7 linked regions of the Homo sapiens genome follow. The protein of the gene in region 4 purifies or fractionates together with the protein of the main gene of each other region. This does not show direct contact. Each region holds a gene or a part of one and is shown on either strand. Other genes may lie near its edges. The genes, in order: LRFN3, APAF1, EDEM3, LGI1, GAK, MTR and DHFR.

Evidence for each region.
Region 1: the proteins of LGI1 (region 4) and LRFN3 purify together in Homo sapiens (affinity purification with mass spectrometry; one large-scale study listed by BioGRID and IntAct). This does not show direct contact.
Region 2: the proteins of LGI1 (region 4) and APAF1 purify together in Homo sapiens (affinity purification with mass spectrometry; one large-scale study listed by BioGRID and IntAct). This does not show direct contact.
Region 3: the proteins of LGI1 (region 4) and EDEM3 purify together in Homo sapiens (affinity purification with mass spectrometry; one large-scale study listed by BioGRID and IntAct). This does not show direct contact.
Region 5: the proteins of LGI1 (region 4) and GAK purify together in Homo sapiens (affinity purification with mass spectrometry; one large-scale study listed by BioGRID and IntAct). This does not show direct contact.
Region 6: the proteins of LGI1 (region 4) and MTR purify together in Homo sapiens (affinity purification with mass spectrometry; one large-scale study listed by BioGRID and IntAct). This does not show direct contact.
Region 7: the proteins of LGI1 (region 4) and DHFR purify together in Homo sapiens (affinity purification with mass spectrometry; one large-scale study listed by BioGRID and IntAct). This does not show direct contact.

Annotation. Positions count from the first base shown.
Region 1 is NC_000019.10:35,942,874-35,946,373, forward strand, and holds part of LRFN3 (leucine-rich repeat and fibronectin type-III domain-containing protein 3 precursor), read left to right. Parts: intron 1-1,674; coding exon 1,675-2,146; 3' UTR 2,147-3,500. UniProt on the Homo sapiens protein: Cell adhesion molecule that mediates homophilic cell-cell adhesion in a Ca(2+)-independent manner. Promotes neurite outgrowth in hippocampal neurons.
Region 2 is NC_000012.12:98,679,790-98,683,289, forward strand, and holds part of APAF1 (apoptotic protease-activating factor 1), read left to right. Parts: intron 1-487; coding exon 488-613; intron 614-3,353; coding exon 3,354-3,485; intron 3,486-3,500. UniProt on the Homo sapiens protein: Oligomeric Apaf-1 mediates the cytochrome c-dependent autocatalytic activation of pro-caspase-9 (Apaf-3), leading to the activation of caspase-3 and apoptosis. This activation requires ATP. Isoform 6 is less effective in inducing apoptosis.
Region 3 is NC_000001.11:184,748,359-184,751,858, forward strand, and holds part of EDEM3 (ER degradation-enhancing alpha-mannosidase-like protein 3 isoform 2 precursor), read right to left. Parts: intron 1,235-3,500; coding exon 1,189-1,234; intron 1-1,188. UniProt on the Homo sapiens protein: Involved in endoplasmic reticulum-associated degradation (ERAD). Accelerates the glycoprotein ERAD by proteasomes, by catalyzing mannose trimming from Man8GlcNAc2 to Man7GlcNAc2 in the N-glycans.
Region 4 is NC_000010.11:93,795,936-93,798,659, reverse strand, and holds the end of LGI1 (leucine-rich glioma-inactivated protein 1 isoform 1 precursor), read right to left. Parts: exon of another isoform or gene 1,693-2,724; coding exon 857-1,692; 3' UTR 501-856; downstream 1-500. UniProt on the Homo sapiens protein: Regulates voltage-gated potassium channels assembled from KCNA1, KCNA4 and KCNAB1. It slows down channel inactivation by precluding channel closure mediated by the KCNAB1 subunit.
Region 5 is NC_000004.12:922,317-925,816, forward strand, and holds part of GAK (cyclin-G-associated kinase), read right to left. Parts: intron 1-3,500. UniProt on the Homo sapiens protein: Associates with cyclin G and CDK5. Seems to act as an auxilin homolog that is involved in the uncoating of clathrin-coated vesicles by Hsc70 in non-neuronal cells. Expression oscillates slightly during the cell cycle, peaking at G1.
Region 6 is NC_000001.11:236,847,292-236,850,791, reverse strand, and holds part of MTR (methionine synthase), read right to left. Parts: intron 449-3,500; coding exon 269-448; intron 1-268. UniProt on the Homo sapiens protein: Catalyzes the transfer of a methyl group from methylcob(III)alamin (MeCbl) to homocysteine, yielding enzyme-bound cob(I)alamin and methionine in the cytosol. MeCbl is an active form of cobalamin (vitamin B12) used as a cofactor for methionine biosynthesis.
Region 7 is NC_000005.10:80,644,984-80,648,483, forward strand, and holds part of DHFR (dihydrofolate reductase), read right to left. Parts: intron 1-3,500.

The sequences.
Region 1 (3,500 bases), on a different chromosome or scaffold from region 4:
AAAAAATTAGCTGAGTGTGGTGGCACGCGCCTGTAGTCCCAGCTACTCAGGAGGCTGAGGCAGGAGAATTGCTTGAACCTGGGAGGCGGAGGTTGCAGTGAGCCGAGGCTGTGCCACTGCACTCCAGCCTGGGTGACAGAGTGAGACTCCGTCTCAAAAAAAAAAAAAAAAAGTCACACAAGTCCTGGCCACCTTGCCAGGTGGGGAATGGGATGAATGCTGTCCTAGACAGTCACCCTGCCCCAGGCGGCCACGGAGTTCCCTGTACCTCTCTCATTAGAATAGCCTAGGAATAAAACAGGTGATAAGTCAACTCTCCAACAGGGTGCCCAACTACAAAAGAAACTATAGTGAAATTGGGTGGTAAGGATTAAAAGGAAACAAGAAAGAAAAAGATAAATAGAAACCAGCCAACAGAGATAAAAGAGAAGCAGGTGACAGAGCCGGAAAGAAATAAGGCAACAGGGAGAAAAAGAAAGCAGTAGTGACGGAGGCACATTAGTTTAATGAAAAGGGAATCAGACGACAGGACTCATTGGAAAACAGGCTATCAATACAGTCATCATAATAAGGCAATAGGGCTAGGGGGACATTTATTGGCAGGTTACAAGGAAATCGGGCAACAGGGGTACAGGGAGATCAGGTGGTTTGATTGGAGAGAATCCTAGCTGTACACTAGAGGAAAATCAGGCAGCTGGAAAAGGGAAATTTGGCATAGGCTGCAGGAAATAGGGGAACCAGAGGGAAATTGGCAAGCGTCTGGAGGAGACTGGGAGGTAAAATGTGGGGGAAATTGGATGGGGGTGGCTAGAAGACAAAAGGATTAAATTAGATGGAAATTGGACAGGGTTAGAGCAGAATTGGGTGGTGAACTGGAGAGATGACTGGCAGTGGGACCAGAGTGAAATCAGGCAGAGGATTGGGGCAAAATTGGGCAGGGAGGCTAGAGCGGAGCTGGGCTGCAGGCTGGAGGGAAATTGAGTGGGCAGTGCAAAAGGGAAATTGGGCAGTTGGGTATAAAATGAAACCGGCAAGGTGTGGTGGCTCACGCCTGTAATCCCAACACTTAAGGAGGCCAAGGCAGGAGGCTGGACTGCCTTGAGGCCAGGAGTTTGAGACCAGCCTGGGCAATATAGCAAGAGCCTGTCTCTACAAAAAATTTAAAAATTAGCTGGGCATGGTAGTGCACACCTGTAGTTCCTGCTACTCAGGAGGCTGAGGCCGGAGGATGGCTTGAGTCCAGGAGTCAGAGGCTGCAGTGAGCTGTGATCATGCCACTGCACTCCAGCTTGGGCAACAGAGCAAGACCCTGTCTATAAGAAAACAGAAAGAAAGAAAGAAAAGAAACAGGATGGATTGGAAGAACTCACGTGGTGAGCTGTTAGAGAAATTGGGTGGTGGGACTAGAGTGAAAATGGGCAGCAGGCTATGAGGACGTGTGAGAGGGTGGGCTAGAGTGAAATTGGCCAACAGACTGGAGGGGTATCAGTCAGGTGGCTGAATGGGATGTCAGACCAAAGGGAATTGGGATGTTGGTGAGAGGGAGCTCATTGGGTAGAATGAAATGAAGGAGTGGACTGGTGGGAAGTCTAGCCCCGCAGGGAGTTTGGTGGGGGAAGCACAGGTTGGGGGCTGGGCAGCCTGAGACCTGACCCCCACCTGCCTGCCCTGCAGGATGATCCCGGCGGAGAGCCGCTCGTTCCTGCTGACGGACCTGGCGTCAGGCCGGACCTACGATCTGTGCGTGCTCGCCGTGTATGAGGACAGCGCCACGGGGCTCACGGCCACGCGGCCTGTGGGCTGCGCCCGCTTCTCCACCGAACCTGCGCTGCGGCCATGCGGGGCGCCGCACGCTCCCTTCCTGGGCGGCACGATGATCATCGCGCTGGGCGGCGTCATCGTAGCCTCGGTACTGGTCTTCATCTTCGTGCTGCTAATGCGCTACAAGGTGCACGGCGGCCAGCCCCCCGGCAAGGCCAAGATTCCCGCGCCTGTTAGCAGCGTTTGCTCCCAGACCAACGGCGCCCTGGGCCCCACGCCCACGCCCGCCCCGCCCGCCCCGGAGCCCGCGGCGCTCAGGGCCCACACCGTGGTCCAGCTGGACTGCGAGCCCTGGGGGCCCGGCCACGAACCTGTGGGACCCTAGCCAGGCGCCCCCCCCTCTAAGGGTCCTCTGGCCCCACGGACAGCAGGACCCGGACACCCTGTGGGACCTGGCCTCAAACTCACCAAATCGCTCATGGTTTTTAAAACTCTGATGGGGAGGGTGTCGGGGACACCGGGGCAAAACAAGAAAGTCCTATTTTTCCAAGCTTGGGCGAAGACCCTTGCCCTCGTCTCTGTCTATGGGGGTTGGGGGACGGAGCAGGGGTCTGGAGCTGGGGAATGCCTCCTTTGGGGAGACACCCCCTCCCCGCCCAGTTCAGTCTGAGGACCCCGGAGGAGGCTGAGGATGGCGATCCATTCAGACAATAGATGTTCCCTGCGTGTCGGCTCTGAGCATGCCCTGGGTTGGGGGATGCTGTGGTGATCCAGATAGCCCTGAGCCCTGCCCGCAGGGGCCTAAAGTCAAATGGGAGACAGACACATCCCCAGACAGTGATAGCACAGAGTGACCAGGGATGTGGGGATGAGGGAAGCCTGGGGGATTGTGACAGTCCAGAAGAGGTACCCTTGCTCAGCCCCAGGTGTGGTCAGGGAGGGCTTCCTGGAGGAGGACACATGTGATCTGAGAATGACATATGAAGGAGATAACTGGGCAAAGAGCAGAAGGAAAGCTCTTTCAGGCAGAGGGCACAGCACAAGCAAGGTGGTGGTGTGCCCTGGGCACTGGGGGTGCTATGGTAGAGGTGAGGCAGGAGGGTTGAGCAGGGTCTAGGACCTCCAGGCTGAGGAGCTCAGACTCTGGCCTGATGATACCAGGGAGCCATGGAGGGTTGTATGCAAGGGAGGAATGGGGTCAGTTTGGGGCTTCAGGAAGATCCTTCTAGTGCTATGAGTAGGGTGGACCCAAGGGGAAGACTGAAGCTGGGAGCCCCAGGGGAAGCTGGGGCAGGGACCTGGGTGGGTGAGGACGAAGTTGGACCAGCTGGGCTAGGGAACAAGAAAAGGGAGTGGGTTGACAGAGACACTCGGGAAACTGTGGGAAGCTGAGGCGGTGGGTTATGGAGCTGCGGGGCCATGGGGTGGGGCAGGAAGATGGTGGGGACTGCCCTCATATAGGACCAGGGAGGAGGAGCAGGTTTGGGAAAGATGATATGGCCAGTGGGGAACTTGGTAGGTGTAGGGGGCCCTGAGGATGTCCAGGATGTGGCATTCAGGAGGGTGCAGGACCCCTGGTCTGAGGCTGAAGCTGGAAATAGAAATGAGGGCTTTGTCAGCAGAGATGGGAACTGACGCTGCTGGGGTTAAGACGGCTTCTTGTGGGGGATGATTCCAAGTCCCCACTATGGGACATTTTTTCTTTTTTCTTTTTTTTTTTTACAGATGGGGTCTCACTA
Region 2 (3,500 bases), on a different chromosome or scaffold from region 4:
GGCACCTGGAGCTGCCTGCCCCGCTGCAGCAGTCAGCACGTCTGTGCGCAGTGGCTGGACCCCACGCTCACTCACACACGCCTCGCTGTTCCACGCCTGACTCGCCCTTGGCAGGCTTGGGACCCAGGCTGGTAGTGTGAGCTGAATGCAGCCTGTCAGGCCAAGTGGGTGAAACAAGACCAGTGGGCCCAAGCAAAACTTGGGCAAAGGCGCCACCGGCCACAGAAGTTTCTGGCCAGAAAATCAACACCCCAAAGATCCTGTAACATTTTCATTGATATTTACAAACATGTAACAGTGAATAGTTCTCTAGTTATGTGAAGGCATACACATTCTGACAGAAATTCTGATTTTGGGAGTAGCTTTGCCAAGGTTCCTTTCTGTTTTGCAAAATGACAATGATTAAACTCACTTAAAGATTTTTATTGAATGATGACCAGTAGTTAAGCAGTTTATTATAAAAAATATTTTATTGTTACTTGTGCAGGTGTTCAAAGCTGAAACAGGAGAGAAACTTCTAGAAATCAAGGCTCATGAGGATGAAGTGCTTTGTTGTGCATTCTCTACAGATGACAGATTTATAGCAACCTGCTCAGTGGATAAAAAAGTGAAGGTAGGAAAATCTTTTCCTCTTGAGTTGTAATCACAACAGAATTCATTTTATTTTTCCATGATCATGAGACCAGAGTAAGTAGAGTTAAAGGACTCTCACCTGTTGATCTACTAACCTGATTCATTGTAAATTAACACTATCTGAAAATTCTTTACTTTTTTTTAAAGAGACAGGATTTTGCTCTGTGACCCAGGCTGGAGGGCAGTGGCATGATCATAGCTCACTGTAAACTCCAATTCCTGGGCTCAAGTGATCCTCCTGCCACAGCCTTCCAAAGTGTTAGGATTATAGGTATGAGCCACTGTGCGTGGCCTGAAAATTCTTTATTTTTAAACACCAGCAAAAATGCCTAGGTTGATCACCTCAGGATTAAACAAGCAGTGGGGAAAAGCAATGACAAATTAGTGAGTTTGTCTTCCATTAATAGACAAGTCCATGGGTTAAATATCAGTTGAAATCTTTGAGTGCATTGTGATTAGGAGTGTTGCTGCACAAACTTGGGGATTCCTGTTGTAAGATACAATTTTAAAATGCAACCCCAATTTTTTTAATTTGCTTATGAACTGGCTTATATATTCAGTGGAAAACCAGGTGGATGAACAAACTAATAATTACGTTACTGGTCTAAAAACATAAATAGAGAAAAGTAAACAGAGTAATTTTTACTTATTTATTTTGAGGCAGAGTCTTGCTCTGACACCCAGACTGGAGTGCAGTGGTACAATCTCGGCTCACTGCAATCTCTGCCTCCAGGATTCAATTGATTCTTATGCCTCAGCCTCTTGAGTAGCTGAGATCACAGGTGTGCACCACCATGCCCAGCTAATTTTTGTAGTTTTGGTAGAGACAGAGTTTTGCCATGTTGGTCAGGCTGGTATTGAACTTCTGGCCTCAAGTGATCCGCCTGCCTTTGACTCCCAAAGTGCTGAGATTATAGGCATGAGCCACTGTGCCCCGCCAGAGAGTAATTTTTATTTTTGTTAAGTATTCTCTTGTTCCTAAATTTGGCTTCTACCAGGAGCATTTATACTAATATAGAATTCAAGAGAAACTGAAGGCTTGTGGGGGTTATCACTGATATATGGAAGACAGACCTTACTTTAACCCTTTTTCAAAGGGGTTAAATCTGGAGTACTGGATGTAGCTAGGTGGAGTGGGCAAGAAATTTGCCTTGGGTGTTTTCCTGAAGTTTTCACCTACTGGAAGAGGGCTATGGAATGTCCAGACTAAATTTGAGACCTTGGAAAAATCTACCTCTTGATAGATTGGACTCGTGGCTTAACCAACAGTTAATTCACTCTGTAGTGTCTACTCTGACTCTGAGTCAGACTTGGAGGTGGCCACTGAGGGCAGTTCTAAAGTCAGAGCTACATGGAGTAAAAGGAAATAATAATGAGTTTCTGTTTTCTAAGCCAGAGGTAGAAATACCTATTAAAGAACTTTAAAATAAGATAAACTCTCTGGACCTCTGGGGATTCTAATCAGTGCTTTGATAACATACAAAGGAAATGCCAAAGGACATTAGTACCTCTAAAAAGTCAAAATCCCAGTGAAGGTTCATTAGGTAATTTATTTCTTTTGTTTGTTGTTATATGGCATAGACTGCTTAGTTGTCTTACATAGTAACTAGAATGATGATTAATTTTTTTGTTTTTTTTTTTTTTTTTTTGAGACGGAGTCTCGCTCTTTCGCCCAGGTTGAACTGCAGTGGCGCTATCTCGGCTCACTGCAAGCTCCGACTCCCGGGTTCATGCCATTCTCCTGCCTCAGCCTCCCGAGTAGCTGGGACTACAGGCGGCCGCCACCGCGCCTGGCTAATTTTTTGTATTTTTAGTAGAGACGGGGTTTCACCATGTTAGCCAGGATGGTGTTGATCTCCTGACCTCGTGATCTGCCCGCCTCGGCCTCCCAAAGTGCTGGGATTACAGGCGTGAGCCACCGCGCCCGGCCTGATGATTACTTTTTACTGAAAACTGAACACTATAAGAGGCTATAAATACTACACACTTTGTCATATTACATTATCAATTTCCTGCTACAGCTTGCAGGGTTAAGTGTCGATCCCGTTTACAGAAGAGGACGCAGATTCAGAGATGAAGTCTCTTGCTCAAGCTTACATTAAACTGGGAACAGTAATAGGGTTGAAAGCTGGGTTTCTCTCAGACTATAAAACCTTTATTTTTTTTAACTAAGCAATCTGCCTTTACTTATTTATATGGTACCTTGAAGTCCATAGAACACTTGTCATGTTCATTATCTCATTTGATATCTTAAATTGTGTGGGAGAGGTATAGATATCCCCATTTTACAGAAGAGGGAACTGAGATGCAGGTAAGTTAGGGATTTGTGACACACAAGTCATAAGTGGTAGAGCCAGCTCTTGGGCTCAACCCTTCTGACCAGAAATCTATTATGCTAACCTCTTTAAAGCACTTCTCTGCCTGCTTTCATTCATATAAACATGTGAAATCTTGCCCTTAAGAAATGTCATGTGTTCATGACACTCTAGTTATGCTATAGGTACATATATGTATATTTGCAAATAATTTTTTTTAAACATTAAGGCAAAATATTGCCATATTTTAGAAAGGGGAGAGGTTTCATTAGCATCTTGTCCAACTAGGAAAATCTGCTATGACAGGATAAGATAGCATTTGCAAAGCAATGGACATTGCTTTGCCCCTCTGTTCTCCCTTTGAAAATAATGGATATTTGTAAATTTTTTCTCTTTTCTCTTTAGATTTGGAATTCTATGACTGGGGAACTAGTACACACCTATGATGAGCACTCAGAGCAAGTCAATTGCTGCCATTTCACCAACAGTAGTCATCATCTTCTCTTAGCCACTGGGTCAAGTGACTGCTTCCTCAAAGTAAGTGTGGATATT
Region 3 (3,500 bases), on a different chromosome or scaffold from region 4:
ATCACTTGAACCTGGGAGGTGGTGGCTGCAGTGAGCTGAGATAGTGCCGCTATACTCCACAGCCTGGGCGACAGAGCACAACTCCGTCTCAAAAAAAAAAACAAAAAACAAAAAACAAAAAAAACATTAAGGGAATGACTGAGGTCTTGAGAAATAAATTTGAAACTGTGTTTTTAATGTTGAAATGTATCCAAAAAAAATCATATCCTAAAAACATTAAGAACTCAAAATGTGCTCTCTCCAAATTTACAATATAAAAGAGAACGAGGACTGTCAAATATAAAACATGTTTTAAAACTAAAAATGCATAAATTACATATATTTAGATGTTCATAGATAACAATGATGTTAGTGTATGAAGATATTTGGTTAATATATGATAAAAAATGGATTCACAGAATCAGTTGAAAAATATTTTAAGCAGAACTAAAGCTAGTCCTCTGCCAAACTTTCCCAACTACATTTTATACGTTGTAATCATAGAAGAAAATCTGCTGACATATTTTAAAATGTAAAAACAAGGTTATAAGGGATAAGTTTCAGGATAATATGCTTAAACTCTTTTCAAATTACAATTTATGTGCAAAATTTTTTTTGAATTCCAGAATTTGCTATTTCATCTACGTTGTTGCACAACAGATCTCCAGAACTTTTCATCTTGTAAAACTGAAACTGCTATTTAATCTTAAGTGAGCCCTAAAACATTTTTAAATAATATGAATCAGCAAACTAAAAAGCAAAATATATTCAGTGCAGAGTCCATGAGGATACAATTAGGACAGAGGCTAAGTAACAATTTCTCTTTTAAGCAATGGTTTTCTTCAGTGTATAAATATTGTAAACATTTTTTTAAATTAAGAGAATAATCTCCCTTAAGACCAGAGATAACATCTTCATGTATATATCCACAATATCTAGCTATATAAAGCACTCAATGATAATTGTTGATGGCACCCAAGGAAGCTGTTTAAATAATGAAGTTTCATAATCTAATTTCAATTTATTCTTATCTGTTCAATAAACTGGTTCCCTAAAAACCACTACCAGAAAGACTATTTTTGCCCTGTTTTTTAAAAACTTCCTTTTAAAAAATGTAATTGTATTGTAGGTTTCAAAATTCCCAGTTGACTGTGCTCACATAATAATCAACTCACATAAATGGTAGGTAAAGATAAGCTTCCTACTTACCATATAGTTACCATAAGCATGATCAAACATTTCCAGTACTTGATTCCTAATTTTAAAAGAGCAGAAATGGAAAAAAAAAAAAAAAAAGGTAAGTATATTCTATTTATTATCTTTCAAAAAGTTAATTCTTCCTCATAAAAAATATACCAATAAAAACAAAAGAAAAATTTAGGTAGAAAGGGACATAAACAGAATCAGAAACTACAACAGCTAGCAGACAAGCTTTCATGAACTCACCACACAGAGCTGAGCCAAACTTTAATGATTACTAGTAATTTATGTACAATTCATCTTATAATTTTTCCTAAGAAAACTGATGAATGATAGATGCCATCATCAGAGAAGGAAATCTGATGCAGAAAAACAATGACCTCTTAACACAATTATTTAACGTATCTGTCTTGAAGCGGGGGTTTTGCTGGACAGCCCTTTAAAAAAACCATTATTATTGCCATTTATTGCTTCCCCTATATGTTCTACTAAGAGAGAGGTACACAGGTGTGTAGTGACATGAAATAACAACGCTTTATGAAGCCTCTGCCTTTGCACTTACATTGAATAAACCACTAATGCCTAGTTTAAGTACATATTTATTAATGTTTGTCATATTTTCAAAAGATACTTTTTATGATGTGCTCTACTCTAAAAAAACTGTCAAAAATCAAATAAATAGTATTCACTTCCAAAATGAGAAAACTAATGCTCAAAAAGAGAGTTGTGTGTTTTGGCGAATTCTGTTTCACAAAATCTCCGTAACCACTGTTTAAAATGGAGATGTCTGATCACTACACCAGAATTTTACTAAATCAAAACCTGTAAGGTTGCGACTGAGGAAGCAGCCTTTCAATTAAGCACTCTCAAGTTCAGGGACTTGAGGACTACAGGAAAAAGTACAAGTTAATTGTATGACCAGACAAGGCCAAATAATTAGCAAAGGAAAACACAGCTTAACAATTTTTTATTAACTTTTTCTTTTTTTTTTGAGACAGGGTCTCACTCTGTCACACCTAGGCTAGAGTGCAGTGGCACGATCTCAGCTCACTGCAACCTTCACCTCCCAGGTTCAAGCGATTCTCCTGCCTCAGCCTCCCGAGTAGCTGGGATTACAGGCGTCTGCCACCATGCCTGGCTAATTTTTGCATTTTCAGTAGAGACAGGGTTTTACCACGTTGGCCAGGCTGGTCTCGAACTCCTGACCTCATGTGATCCACCCGCCTCAGCCTCCCAAAGTGCTGGGATTACAGGTGTGAGTTACCACGCCCGGCCTATTAACTTTTCTTTTACCAAAGTTCCAATCACTGATGGCAAGAATTGAAAAAAGTGTTAAAGAAATTGCTGACTATATTTTTATTTGCCTCCTGTTATACTGCAATTGTCATTTTTAAAACTATAATCACAGATTATGAAATACTGGTAATAATAGAGCTAGCAAACAGAAAAGACCTCAGTTCCAGATCCTGACTATGAACACCAACAAAATCAAGTACACTCAAACTTGTGAACGAATTAAGTCCTGACAACATATGAATAATAACCACTTAAAAACATTTCATTATTTAAAAAAAGACCTTACCACCACTTTGCTAAAGCACTAATTCTTTGTAAGTTTACATATATATATATGTTTATATATATATAATTTTTATATTTGTGGTTTACAGCTCTAGACTCTTATCCTGTCCTAAGCAGAAAAAAAAAAGTTTAAAATGTCCCTTTCAGGAACTCATATCAATGAATGGAAGATGGAAGTCCTCTTTTTTTTCCTTCCCTGAAATGGAATACGAGATTATTACCAAGAAGTAGAAATTCCTATAATTGGCAATGGTAGTGCCTAGACATGTATATTACAAATGACATAAGCTTTAACTTGCTAACTCAACTTTACAAGCATTCAATTTTCAAGACTGTAAGTAAATCATGATTGCATACAAGGAGAATACACTATTTTCCAATCCTTACATTTATGCAGCATATGATGAGCAAATTTTAGAACACATATTTCAAAGTGGAGCTATTTAATATCATTGCTCTTACACATAGAAGCCTAACAAAGTCACATTTAAATACAGAATGGTATAATAATTACTATACTGAACAGAAAAAAAAATTTCCATAATGTTTTATCTATTCAAAAACTGGATTAAAATGTATTGGAAATCAGACCCAGTTCAAAAATTACACCACTCTTCAGTAATTTCTGTAAGTCGGCTTTTTCTCTTTTTTTGAGACAGAGTTTTGCTCTTGTTGCCCGGGCTGGAGTGCAATGGCACGATCTCTGCTCGCTGCAACCTTCGCCTCCAGGTTCAAGCGAT
Region 4 (2,724 bases):
TCATGACAGGTACATTTGAGGCAAGCACTGTAAGGTTACAATCTCTATCAGCTGTCAGATGTTTAGAAAGACCCTAAATAGGGTATTGAGATCCTAATTCTTGATTTTACTTTCTCCTAGAAATTGTCTGAGTGATGATTTTAGCTGGGCTTATCAGTCAGGAAAGGATGGGTCTTGCTGTCCTTAATTTCAAATCAGTCTTCTTGTAGTAGGCAAATTTCTCTACCTTTCTTTTAATTTGTCACCATTTCACCTCAAATTATCCCTAAAGGCCATGACCTTTGGAAATACCTTTGAATGTTCAAAATCAGCTGATCCAGCCACAGATAAACCTGGTCATAATCAATGGGTAATCAATATCATATTACCCATAATTTTATCTTCACTCATTCTTCACATCGTAAATCCTTGATCCAAATACAATACTATTATATAAAACTATTTCTTCAACATACCAACAACAAGAATGAAACAGCTCCTGTAAATAATTACCTCTGGGATATGAAAGAAAATGTAAACATTTTATTTGGCAGTTGTTTCTGTACACATGAATAAATAAATGGAAAAGTACATATTAATATTTCTTTTTGGAGTAACAGATACCATTAAACGCTTATTTACACATCTTCACTGCAAAGAACAGTTACACAATTAAATTTTGTCTTATAAAAGGTAACTTCCCACATCACTGGACTGGACAGTTAAGGATGGAGATACTGGTAGTGCTTGGTTCTAGCAGTCTCAATGTTTGAAAGGCATTCATTTGCAAGTGTGATAAGAAGAGTCATCATGCATTGAGTTCATCCGGGTCATGTACTGTAGAAAATTTCTGATGGCAGCCACAGAATTTGGTGTCTCATGCGCTTAAGTCAACTATGACATGTTTGTAAATCTGTGTATTTCCCTTAAAACTGGAAGCAAAAAGAAAATTACGCTTATTAATGGACACATGTGTGAATGATCTTGGTGCCTGAACATTTAATTCCTGAAATTTCACAAATTTGGCTTTCTCTGCATCCCAGTTATACACTTGAGTAAAGGAGTAATCACTTCCAAGAATTGCATATTGGTAATTATTTATTTGAAGAGGCTGGAACACCATGGATCCTCGCGATGGCATCCTCTGAATATCCTGGAACGAGGAGCCTCCCCATTTCATGACTTTGGAATCACCAATGAATCTTGTCAAGCAAATGTACACGTCCCCTTTCACTGAGAAGTGCTTCACTGCGTACACATCCTCCATGTTAGGAATGTCAGTTTGGTTAGTGAATAATTGTGTTGCTTTGTTCCACTGATAAATTACAGGACGCTGGGAACTACTAGACAGAATTAAATGAGGCGTTCTGAGTGTCTGAGGTGTTCTGACTATTTCTAGATATTCCACATCAGTGTCCCTGTACCACGCGTGTAAGGATTGATGGGAGTAGAATCCGTTTCCGTTCCATTTGTAAATGGTAGTAAAACCAGCTTTTGAACTGTCAGCAACAACAAAGTACCAGTTGTTTTCAATCTTGAATGTTTCAATGTCATTGGGTTTTCGGATTTTGAGAATTTCAATATCCTGGATTTTTATGAATTTATTTGCAAAACTGTCTCGCTTATAGATGTGAGAGCCACCAAACAGCTGGGCCACAATAACATAGAGCTGAGTTTCAATGACTATAGGCTTGCATACTACAGTGGATGTGCCTGGGAAAAGACAAAGGAGAGATTAGTTGTGTGGCCATCCTCTTTTGGAGCATGTAAACATGCGGGCTGGGGCCATACAACTTCCACCCAAATCAGCCTGAAACAAGAGATCTCCTTGGTTGATTAGGCAAGGCTGGTCTCCAAAGCCCAATGGCAGCAGTGTCCTAAAGTTCCGTGCCTTTGTGCCTCGTGGGGCCTTGTTGCCAACAATTGAGTTGTTAATGTCATATCTAGCCTGCGCTAGACGTTCAGGACACACAGCTATGGCCCGAGTGTTCTCCTCTTACTTCTTGCAGAAAGAAAGCATTAGTTTCCCTGACACAAATGAGTTAATCATAATTCTAATGAAAACTACTGTTTACTGAGCATCTATTATGTGCTTTCTCAATTTACCTCATTAATTTTCCCAACAATCTTAAGAGATAAATATTATCCTTTTTCCACATGAGTAAACTGAAGCTCAGAGAGGCTGTTCTGGTAGCAGAAGGCAGAGTTGGGGATTCAAAGCCAGGCCTACCAGCATCTCTATGCTTTTAACCCAAGCTGGGGACAAGTTAGCTATTCCAGGACTTCAAATTTGGTTTATCTAAGATCTTAGATAACCAAAGGCTAGCGTTGTGGTCTGGGTAGCCCATGGCTCTACTGTAATTGTTTTGCTCTAAGTCTGAACTGCTTCCTGCTCTAGAATAATTTGCCTTTCCCCTGCAAAGAAAGGAGATGCCACTTGTCACTTTTCTGGAGCTTTAGGTCACTGGTGGCAGGAGTGAAGAGAAGGAAAAGGAATCTTTAAAAAAATCGAAAGAAGGGTGCAGCCATGGGCACTGCTCCTGAAAGTTATTTTGGAAAATCACAGAAAATGATGTGGGATCTGTCAGTGGCCTAGCTTGGTATCCTTTGGGGAAGAGTTTGACATTTATCAGTAGATTCTGATCTTGCAGGAGTTTGGCTCTAGAAAATCCAGAGACAGCTGAACAAATCTGGGCTTTAGGCCTCTTCTGACTACAGCGCTAGTGCGGGGCAGAAAGTTCTACA
Region 5 (3,500 bases), on a different chromosome or scaffold from region 4:
CCAACCTGGGAAACATGGTGAAACCCCGTCTCTACTAAAAATACAAAAATCAGCGGCGCATGGTGGTGGGCGCCTGTAGTCCCAGCTACTCAGGAAACTGAGGCAAGAGAACTGCTTGAACCCAGGAGGCAGAGGTTGCAGTGAGCTGAGATTGCGCCACTGCACTCCAGTCTGGGTGACAGAGCGAGACTCCATCTCAAAAAAAAAAAAAAAAAAAAGGCAGCATCTGCAAACCAGCAAAAGAGGCCTCTCCTGGAATCAGCACTGACAGCATCTTGCTCTTGGCCTTCAAGCCTCCAGAACTGCGAGAGTGAATTTCTACTGCTCCCCACTCAGTCTGGAGTATTTTGTTATGGCAGCCTAACCAGGCTGATACGCTCCTACATTGCTGGTGGGAATGTATGGCCACTCAAGAAAACAATCTGGCAGTTTTCTAACAAACTAAACACATAATTACCACACATGAACCAGCAACTGCACTCTTAAACATTTATCCCAGAAATGAAAACGTATATTCACACAAAAACCTATACGCAAGTGTCACAGCAGCTTTATCTGTAGTAGCCAAAACAGGAAACAGCCCAGATGTCCTTCCACGGGTGGCTGGCTGGGCAAGCCGTGCACACTCACGCAGAGGAGTCTCACCACGGGAAACAAGCTACTGACACACAATTACCTGAAGAATTCTGCACTTCCCCTTACACTGCATCCTTCGAATGACAAAATCACAGACAGAGCAAAGACTAGAGGTTTCCAGAGGGTAAGGAAATGGCGTGGCTGAGAGGTGGCATGAGGGCTCCCTACGGGGATGGAGACTTCCACAGCCTCACCTGCACCAGGGTTAGCATCCCGACCGTCACCACTGGGGAAACCAGGCAAGGGTCTAAAATAGAAAAGATCTCCATCTTTTCTCACAGCCGCGTGGGAACCTACAATGAACTCAAAATAATACAGTTTATTTAAAAATAATAGTAACGTATAAGACATTAAAGAATGGCATGTCGGGTACCTCCAAGACCCTGTTATATACATTTTACAGCACACACTCTGCCAATTAAGGAACAGGCACAGGCCAGGCACAGTGGCTGACACCTGCAATCCCAGCACTTTGGGAGGCCGAGGTGGGAGAATCACTTGAGCCCAGGAGTTCTGAGAACAGCCTACAGGCAACATAACAAGACTCCATCTCTACCAGAAATAAATTAAAAATTAGCCAGGCGTGGTGGTGCGTGCCTGTGGTCCCAGCTACCTGGGAGGCTGAGGTGGGAGGATCGCTTGAGTCCGGGAGTTCAAGACTGTGGTGAGCTGTGATCATGCCACTGCACTCCAGCCTGGGCAACAAAGCAAGACCTCATCTCAAGGGCAGGGAGTGGAGGGGTGGGGAGTGGAGGCACAGAGACATCAAATGCTCAAGCCAGGTCAAATCTCAAGGCCCAGGTTCCCTGAGGCAGCCTGGCCTGGGACAGCAGAGTGACCACAGCTAAGGCTTGCCTTCTCTTTCTCACATAAATTATATAAATATATAAACATAAGACCTGTATCCAGAGTAAGCAGAAACTCCCTGCCCAATAAAAAATGGACAAAAAGGCCAGGCGCCGTGGCTCATGCCTGTAATCCCAGCACTTTGGGAGGCCAAGGCCGGCGGGTGACCTGAGGTCAGGAGTTTGAGACCAGCCTGACCAACATAGTGACACCCCATTTCTACTAAAAAATACAAAATTAGCTGGGCATGGTGGTGCATGCCTTTAATCCCAGCTAGTTGGGAGGCTGAGGCAGGAGAATTGTTTGAACCTGGGAGGTGGAGCTTGCCGTGAGCCAAGATGGAGCCACTGCACTCCAGCCTGGGCAAGACTCCCTCTCAAAAAAAAAAAAAAAAAAAAATTGCTGAACATCATCATCAGGGAAATTCCAATGAAATCACAATGAGATCGACACCACTGCACACTCACAAGAATGGATGTAATCAAAATGAGAGACCACAAGAAATGCTGGTGAGGAAGTGGAGAGCCAGGAACTCTCCACTGCAGCTGGTGGAAATGTAAAATGGTGCAGCTACCGTGGAAGGAGGTTTGGTTGTTTCATGTGAAGTTCAACCTAAATCCAACCTGTAAATCAGCAATCCTACTCCTTGGTATTTTTTACCCAAGACAAAGAAAAACACACGTCCACAAAAAGACTTGAAAAAAAATGTTCTCGGCACCTTTATTCATAACAGCGGATACGGTTTGGATCTTTATTCATAACAGCGGACACGGTTTGGATCTTTATTCATAACAGCACATACGGTTTGGATCTGCGTCCCCATGCAAATCTCATGTTCACTTGTGACCCTCAATGTTGGAGGAGGGGCCTGGTGGGAGGTGACCGGATTATGGGGCGGAGTTCCCCATGGCGTGGCTGCTCTCAGGATAGTGAGATCTGACTGGGCCATGGGTGTGGAGTTCCTCCCGGGGCTGCTCTCAGGATAGTGAGTGCTCTCCTGTGAGATCTGATTGGGTCGTGGGGGTGGAGTTCCCCCGGGGGGCTGCTCTCAGGATAGTGAGTGCTCTCCTGTGAGATCTGATTGGGTTGTGGTGGTGGAGTTCCCCCAGGGGCTGCTCTCAGGATAGTGAGTGCTCTCCTGTGAGATCTGATTGGGTCATGGGGGTGGAGTTCTGCCCGGGGGCTGCTCTCAGGAGGAGGTTGCCAGGATCTGAGATCACACCCCTGTACTACAGCCTGGGCAACACAACAAGACTCTATCTCAAAAAAATAAGAATAAAAAAATAACAGGCACAGGATATGAATGTGCAATGCCAGAAGGGGAGGCTGAGCAGCAAATAAGCATTACCAAACTCGCTACTCAGAAAGGCACAAATCAAAGCTTGACACTTTTTAAACCCATCAAAATGTCCAAATAAAACAAACCCCCAGGGGACACTCTGAGGACTTGGGACACTAGAGTCTGGTGCCCCCGAGCAGCCTGCAGGCCCCATGAGCAGAGCTGGGCAACCTTCCCCCACACAGCCCACCAGCGTCCATGCAAAGGGCTGAGGACACCTCTCACCAGGATGCGTGTAGGATGCACGGAGCACGCTGGGGACGGGACAGAGTGCCGGGGGACAGTGAGGTCAGTACAGGACCACTACAGGCAGATCTGAGTATCTTTTTTAATCAACTCGGCCTCTTTTAAGAAACAGACACTTTTCTAACGTAAAATACCACATACCAACATTTTCAATACACACATAATTCACAACACTACAGAATGAATCTGTGTCCCCTCCAAAATTCCTGTGTGAAATCCTAATACCCAAGGTGATGGTGTTAGGAGGTGGGGCCTCCTTGGGGGTGACTAGGCCATGAAGGTGGAGCCCTCAGGACTGGGATTACTGCCCCAGAGAGCACTCCCTCACCCCTTCTGCCCTGTGAGGACACAGCGAGAAGGTGCTGGACCTCACCAGACACCAGATCTGCCGGCGCCTTGCGCCTGGACTTCCAGCCTGCAGAGCCGTGAGGAA
Region 6 (3,500 bases), on a different chromosome or scaffold from region 4:
GGCGTGATCCCAGCTCAATGCAACCTCCACCCTCCTGGGTTCAAGCGAGTTCATCAGGCTCTGTTATGTTCTCCAGTCTGTTTGTTACACAAGTTAAAACTCTACTAAAGAAAAAAAATAAGGTCTCCTACATTTCAGAAAAACAATTTACTAACTAAGAATGTTAACATTTCATCAGCCAATAAATATATAAGTTAGTTCTAACCATTCATTAGACCCATGGGACAAATTTGAGCCATGACTTGGGAGAGAACATGCCTACACTTACTTTAATGACTTTTGTTGCATGGATAAAATTAATGGCATACAAGTTGTGTTCCTCCATTCCAGTCCCAATGGTTAGGATATTAGGGTCAAAAATAATGTCATTTGGATTAAAGCCCAGTTTTTTCACAAGCAGATGGTAGGCCCGGGTGCACACTCTGATTTTTGTGTCTGTTTCTGTTGCCTAGGGAAAAGAGCAAAAGATGTAGTTTGAAATAGAAAAATTATCTATTAAAATATTAATATTAAATACCTGTTATTTTATTTTAATAAAATATTAATATTAAAATATTAAGTGTTATACATTAGAGCACATTTCACTCACTGAAAACACTCAAGTGTCAATGCTTGGATTTCACAGAAATCTAAATGCCAAGCAGCTTCCGATCACTTATCAAATTATCTCAGAGGAGAGACTGGTTTAAAGATCTCTTTGTGTTTTCACAAACACAGCAGCTATACTCTTTCTGCAAAAAATCAAACCTTAAACATATACACACATATGGTATATTATGAAAAAGCTTCTAAAAATACATGCATATGATAAAAAATCAAATACTACTAAAGAAGAGATTAACATGTAAGTGCCCCTTCCTCTCTTGACCTGACAGCAGTGTCACAACCTATCACCCAGGAAACACTGCCATTGCTTTCTCAGATCTTCTTGCAAAAACATTCTAAGCATATTCAAGGATATGCATTTATTCCTCACCTTCACCCATTTTAACACTGGCCTAACATGTGTCTTAAGTCATAAATACAAATTAGTCTTTACCTTCAAAATAATGTCCCTAAAAGGCAAAACACTAACTCCGGCAAGGCTCATCCCCCAGCTGCTTCCCAAAAGCCTCAGAATCTCAGCCTCCATCTCCAATCTCATCTCCTACCATTTGCCCTCTCCTCTACTCCGCACCTCCTACATTGCTCCTTTGGTGTTTTTGAAACCCGTCAAGCTTGTTCCTCCCTCAGCAACTTTCATTTATTGCTGCCACTACCAGAACATACCATGACATGGCTTTGTGCTTCACAGAACTAAGGCTTCTGCCCAAGTGCCCCCTTTTCAGAGCCTACCTTAAATCACCCTCTCTAAACCAGCCACTTCCACCCTTCCCCACCTCCTCCATTCTTCTTCGGAGTATTTCTTTCCAGAAATTGTATTATTTTGGCAACATCTTTAGTATTTTTCGTTGTTTTATTACTTGTTAATTGGTAAACTCCTCTCCCCTAGATAGAATGCCAGTCTTGCTTTATCCCCAGTGCCCTGAGCAGTGCCTGTCAAAGTAGGTGCTCAACATTATGTATGAATGCTGCTTTTACTCAAAGTATTTCTGAACTTTGTCATGGAAACTGTCTTCAGATCAAATTTACAACCTCAACACAGGGTATTCACCAAATTACATCCTGAATTATTTCTGGTTGTATGAAAAATCAAATCTACTCTTAAAAAATGATTACTTGCTATCACTCCAGAGATAAGAAAAAATAAGTCACAATTCTGAAGGTCAATTCTCAATGAACGCGAAAAATGTTCTTGAAAAATGGCCAACCCTACTGCAATCTATATTGCAGACTTCTGTGGAGATGAGGGGGTAGGGACACGGACATAGGTCAAGTGCATCTAGTGAGGCCCTAGACAACAGAAATGAGGAGTAGGGGAATTATGAAAAGAACTCTCTCTTAGATCTAGCCTTTTGATCACTTACTACTTTGGTATTCTTTTTCAACTGTTTTCTTTGGTCTCTTTAATCGCTCTCTGCAGCTGGTGGGGTGAGACTTCACCTCTACTTGGGAGGGAAGTGCCTCCAGGACTTAGCAGACAAAATGGCCCAGGGAAAGGGAGACAGGAAGTGGTCTCTGTGGCCTCACTGCACCCAGGCTTTAGGGAAGGTGGCGAGCTTTCGTCTTCCTTAATGGAATTTTCTCAATGCTTACTTCCTCTGCCTTCAGTTAGAGTGAAAAGGTTAAGGTTGAGACTGAGATGTATGTCAGAAAAAACTGGTCAGAAACAGCCCATTTGCAGCTGCCTTTAGGCTTGAACTTTTAAAGTCTACCCTTCACCAGACAGCCCAATAGAGTTCTAGGCTCTAGGTTCATGGCTCATCTAAGCTCACTAAGAGAGAAGGCACAGGGGCGACCAATGCTACTAGTATTACTGAGTAACCTAGTCTGGTTGGTAGATGAAGAAGTCAAGGTCCTGGTCATTCCTCATCTGAGCCATGAATATTATCTGGCCAAGCAGGGCAGGTTGAAGTGAACAGTATGTTACCCACAGGAGAGTAGGGTGTAGGGCCCAGCTGTATACCAAAGACAGCCCTGCTTGTGGGACAAGCAGGTGCATCCTCACAGGACAGGAATTCATTTCTAGAACCAAAACAGAGTCATCAACTCTAACCTCCATAAGGATGAAGCCCTTGTCAAATTGTTCTCATGGCGTCTAGCACAGTATCTGTGCCACATTAACAGATACTCAACCTCTGTCACTTGATTAAACAATGACTCTCAGAGTGAACACGGCATTGGTGTACAGGCCTTTGTCAGGAGCAGGTCATATCTCATATCACGTAAGGTTCACCAAGCTTCTGTCTTACTCCTCACCAGGGCTGTGGGACAGACACACTAATAAAGCCTCAATCGTGCTGGTGGATTTCAGAGATCCAGAATAGAAGTTCAGTAAAACAACGGAATGGCAGCTTTACTCCATCAGGAAGGGCTTTCAACTCTGGTTGCACATTACAATACCCTGGAGGGATTTCTGTTTGCTTGTTTTTTATAATAGTAACACCTCACCCTGAACCAGTTAAATCAGAATCTGGAGATGGGGTCTCAGCAAGTGTTTTGTAAAAGCCCCTTAGTGATGCTAATATAAAGCCAGGTGAGAACCACCAACAGGTGAGATGTGGCACCTTCTTCAGTTGGAGTAGAAGAAAAACTCAGTGAGATTCTAAGCAGCAAGAAGGAAGGAATAAATGCCATTTATAGCTTTATCAAACAGGTTTACTCTTAAGCCATAGAGAAGCTAGACTGTGACCAGTGAGTAGAAGGCTTTACTTAAGAAGCTCATGGCTCAGATTCTGCTAAAATATCACACACTCAGGCAGTAATGCAATAAAACAATTTTTGATTTGGTCATCAAGGCAGACACTGTGAGGAAGAGAAGGACAATGTGTAGAAGACATCTAGATTCTTTAATGTAGTCTGACAAGGAGCAGAGATCGAACAGGGCTAACTTCAGAGGT
Region 7 (3,500 bases), on a different chromosome or scaffold from region 4:
TTGTCATACCCAACTAAATCAGAGTTGAGGGGCCAGGGGAAAAAAGCACTCAGGGTATAAAACATTGCTCCAAGAATGTAATTCTCTGTAAGCCTGACTGCTGGAACTGCTTGTTGTAACCTGAAACCAGTTTTATCTATAGCTTCTGAGATAACTTGCTGCAACTCTAGAACTGATTTTGCCCACCACTCACTGCTCGCCAGTCGGAGCTTGCTAGCTCCCCCAAACCTTAGTAGTGCCAATGAACTTTCTCAAAGAGCAGTAACATTTCTCCTTTTAAATAAAACCTCTAACCTTCCCTTTGTTCTTCAGACATATGGAAGGTCACTTGTCTGCATGTATGCCCTAAACTGCAATTTTTTCTTCCCAAACACAATGTTAAATTTAGAGAATTCATCGCAAAATTTTTATTTTGCCTTTGATAATACTAAAAGGTTGGGACAGCAGAGCAAGGTGAAGATAGAAAAAAAGGAATCCAGAATCAAGTCAGGGGAGATGAGAGAGTTGATTTAGGTGGCAGTGGATTTTTGTCTCAAGATGGAGGGAAACAAGAACAAAGTAATATGTTAAGGTGAAAATGAGATCATGAGTCTGTTCACTGTGATTTCATTAATATTAATATTAATGTGTATGTTCTATAAGATATAAAGTAGCAAGTTTATGGGGGTGGGGGTAGGAACTGATATCTATACCCTTCTGTGTGCCAGAAACTTTACATACAAAATTTCAGTGAGTCTTCAAAATCACCCAAAAAAGTTGTCATTATTCATCTCATTTAATAGGTAAGGAAAGAGGTTCAACAAGGCTTACTTGTAACCTGCCTAAAGTCACAAAGTTATTAGGTGCCATAGTAGACATCAGAAACCAGGTCAGTGTTTGCTACTCCAAGTGTGTGAGTGGTAGGGGGAGAGAGAACTGCACCTTCAAGAAGTTTTAATCACTGTGGAGATTCTGATAGTGAGATCGTAAAAAATTATAACATGAAATTAAGTTAACTTTCGTGGATGGGAGACTATTTAAATCTTACATAATGGAGGCAATTTTGGATTTTCTAAAGATGGTGTCCAGGCTACTATAGCATTACAGTAAAACTTGTTTATTTAATTTTTGGTTCCAACGAGGTTTTTTTTTTTTTTTTGAGACGGAGTCTTGCTCTGTTGCCCAGGCTGGAGTGCAGTGGTATAGTCTTGGCTCACTGCAACTTCTGCCTCCTGGTTCAAGAGCTTCTCCTGCCTCAGCTTCCCGAGTAGCTGGGATTACAGGTGCTTGCCACCACGCCTGGCTAATTTTTGTATTTTCAGTAGAGACGGGGTTTTGCTATGTTGGCCAGGCTGGTCTCGAACACCTGACCTCGTGATCTGCCCACCTCGGCCTCCCAAAGTGCTGGGATTACAGATGTGAGCCACTGTGCCCGGCTGGTTCCAAAGACTTTTAAAAGCCACTTTATTGATATAAATCACACACCATAACATTTACCCTTTTAAAGTGTATAGTTCAGTGACGTTTAGTAGATTCAGAGTCGAGCAAGCATCACTCCTATCTACTTTTAGAACAGTTCCATCACACCAAAAAAGAAAACATTCTGTACTCATCAGTGGCCATTCCCACCCTTCTCACCTCAAGTTCTTTTAAAGCCACAACTTGACTGTCTAGACAACTTTGGAAAAGCATTTTCCCTCAATACCTTACTTAAGAAATATTTACCCTAAATTACTATAGTGTTTGGTAGAAAATTTTGTGATCACTTTGAGGATTCAGTTTCTTCTTACATTGGGGGAGAGGGGTGAAAAATGAAGTATCTTTAGAGTTGGCATAAGCAAGTGATTTCCATGTATAAATCTCTGCCCTCTTATTCAGGACCCTGCAGTGCCTGGCACTCAGCAGCTGTTCACTATATGTGTGGGACTGACCAACAAGTAAGGAAGTGGAAGGAAGAACAACAACAAAAAAGAGCTCTAACATTTTTTACTAACTGGTATCACTATTTCCCTGGCATGCTTGATAACAAAGACTTTAAATTTTCTCAGCCTTAAAAAAAAAAGCACAAGACACCAACATATGTTATATATAAATACAGAAGAAGCAACCAAACCCAATTACATGCATCACAGGAAGGTCGTAAAAAAAAATTACACTCATCATATTCGAGGAGAAATGCTGGCTCAAGTGAACATCTCCCCCACTGAGATTTCTTTCTGTTTGAGCTTAAGCTAGCCATAAACAAACTTGAGTAGTATTCAAAAATATCATTAAAGAGTTTCTTGGAATGGCGATATAGTCTGTGAATTTGAAATCTACCAAGGAAAGAGATAATCAGAGCATCCTAGCAACCAGAAGAAAGAACAGCATGAAGATGGAAGCAGGCAGCAAGATGCACATCAACAAATCTGCCCCGTCGCCCAGAGGCAATCAATGCAAATATTCTATACACTTTCTTCTCGGTTTTTACCTATGCCATTCTAGGAAGAACTTGGGAGAAAATCTATGTAAGCCTGAATCCCCTTAGCCTATATAGCTGTGTAGTTCTTTCCTTCCCATAGTGTTAAACTTGACTAGGATATAGTCCTTGGTTATTCAGATACTGTATCTAGGTGTTGCTTTGAAGGCATTTTGTAGATGTGATTACAATTCAGTTTTTTTTTTAAATTTTTTTGAGACAGGATCTCACTCTGTTGCCTAGGCTGGAGCGCAGTGGTACTATCTTGGCTCACTGCAACCTCTGCCTCCTGGAAACTACAGGTACATGCCACCACGCCTGGCTAATTTGTTTGTAGAGACGGGGTTTCATTATGTTGCACGGTTGGTCTCAAACTCCTGAGCTCAAGTGATCCACCTGCCTTGGCCTTCCAAAGTGCTGGGATTGCAGGGGTTAGCCACTGTGCCCGGTCAGACTTTAATCTGAGTGGGCTGAATCAATCAGTTTAAAGGCTTTAAGAGTAGAGTTGAGGCTTTCCTGAAGAAATTTCACCTGTACCACTTCAGCCCCTGCTGGAGAATTCCAGCTTGTCCTTTCTGATGGCCCGTTTTACAGATTTTTGGACTCACGTACCCAGCCCCCATAATTGTGTAAGCCAATTCCTCGCAATAAAACTCTTTAATATACCTGTATCTATCTACTACTGGTTCTGCTTCTTTGGTTGAATCTTCACCAATACACATGGGAAAAGAATACTATGACTACTGTTCCCAAGAAAGTAGTGCCCTAGGATACTGCATTCTTTTTGGTGATTATATTATTAGACTAAGAATGATTAACATGCCAGATCCCAGACCTTCCCCTTAGATCCTGATATGGTTTGGCTGTGTCTCCGCCAAAATCTCACCTTGAATTGTAATAATCCCCACATGTCAAGGGTGATACCAGGTGGAGATAAATGAATTATGGGGGGTGGTACCCCCCATGATGTTCTCGTGATAGTTAAGTTCTCATGAGATCTGATGGTTTTATAAGGGGCCTTTCCCCCTTTGCTCGGCACTTCTCCTTCCTGCCACCATGTGAA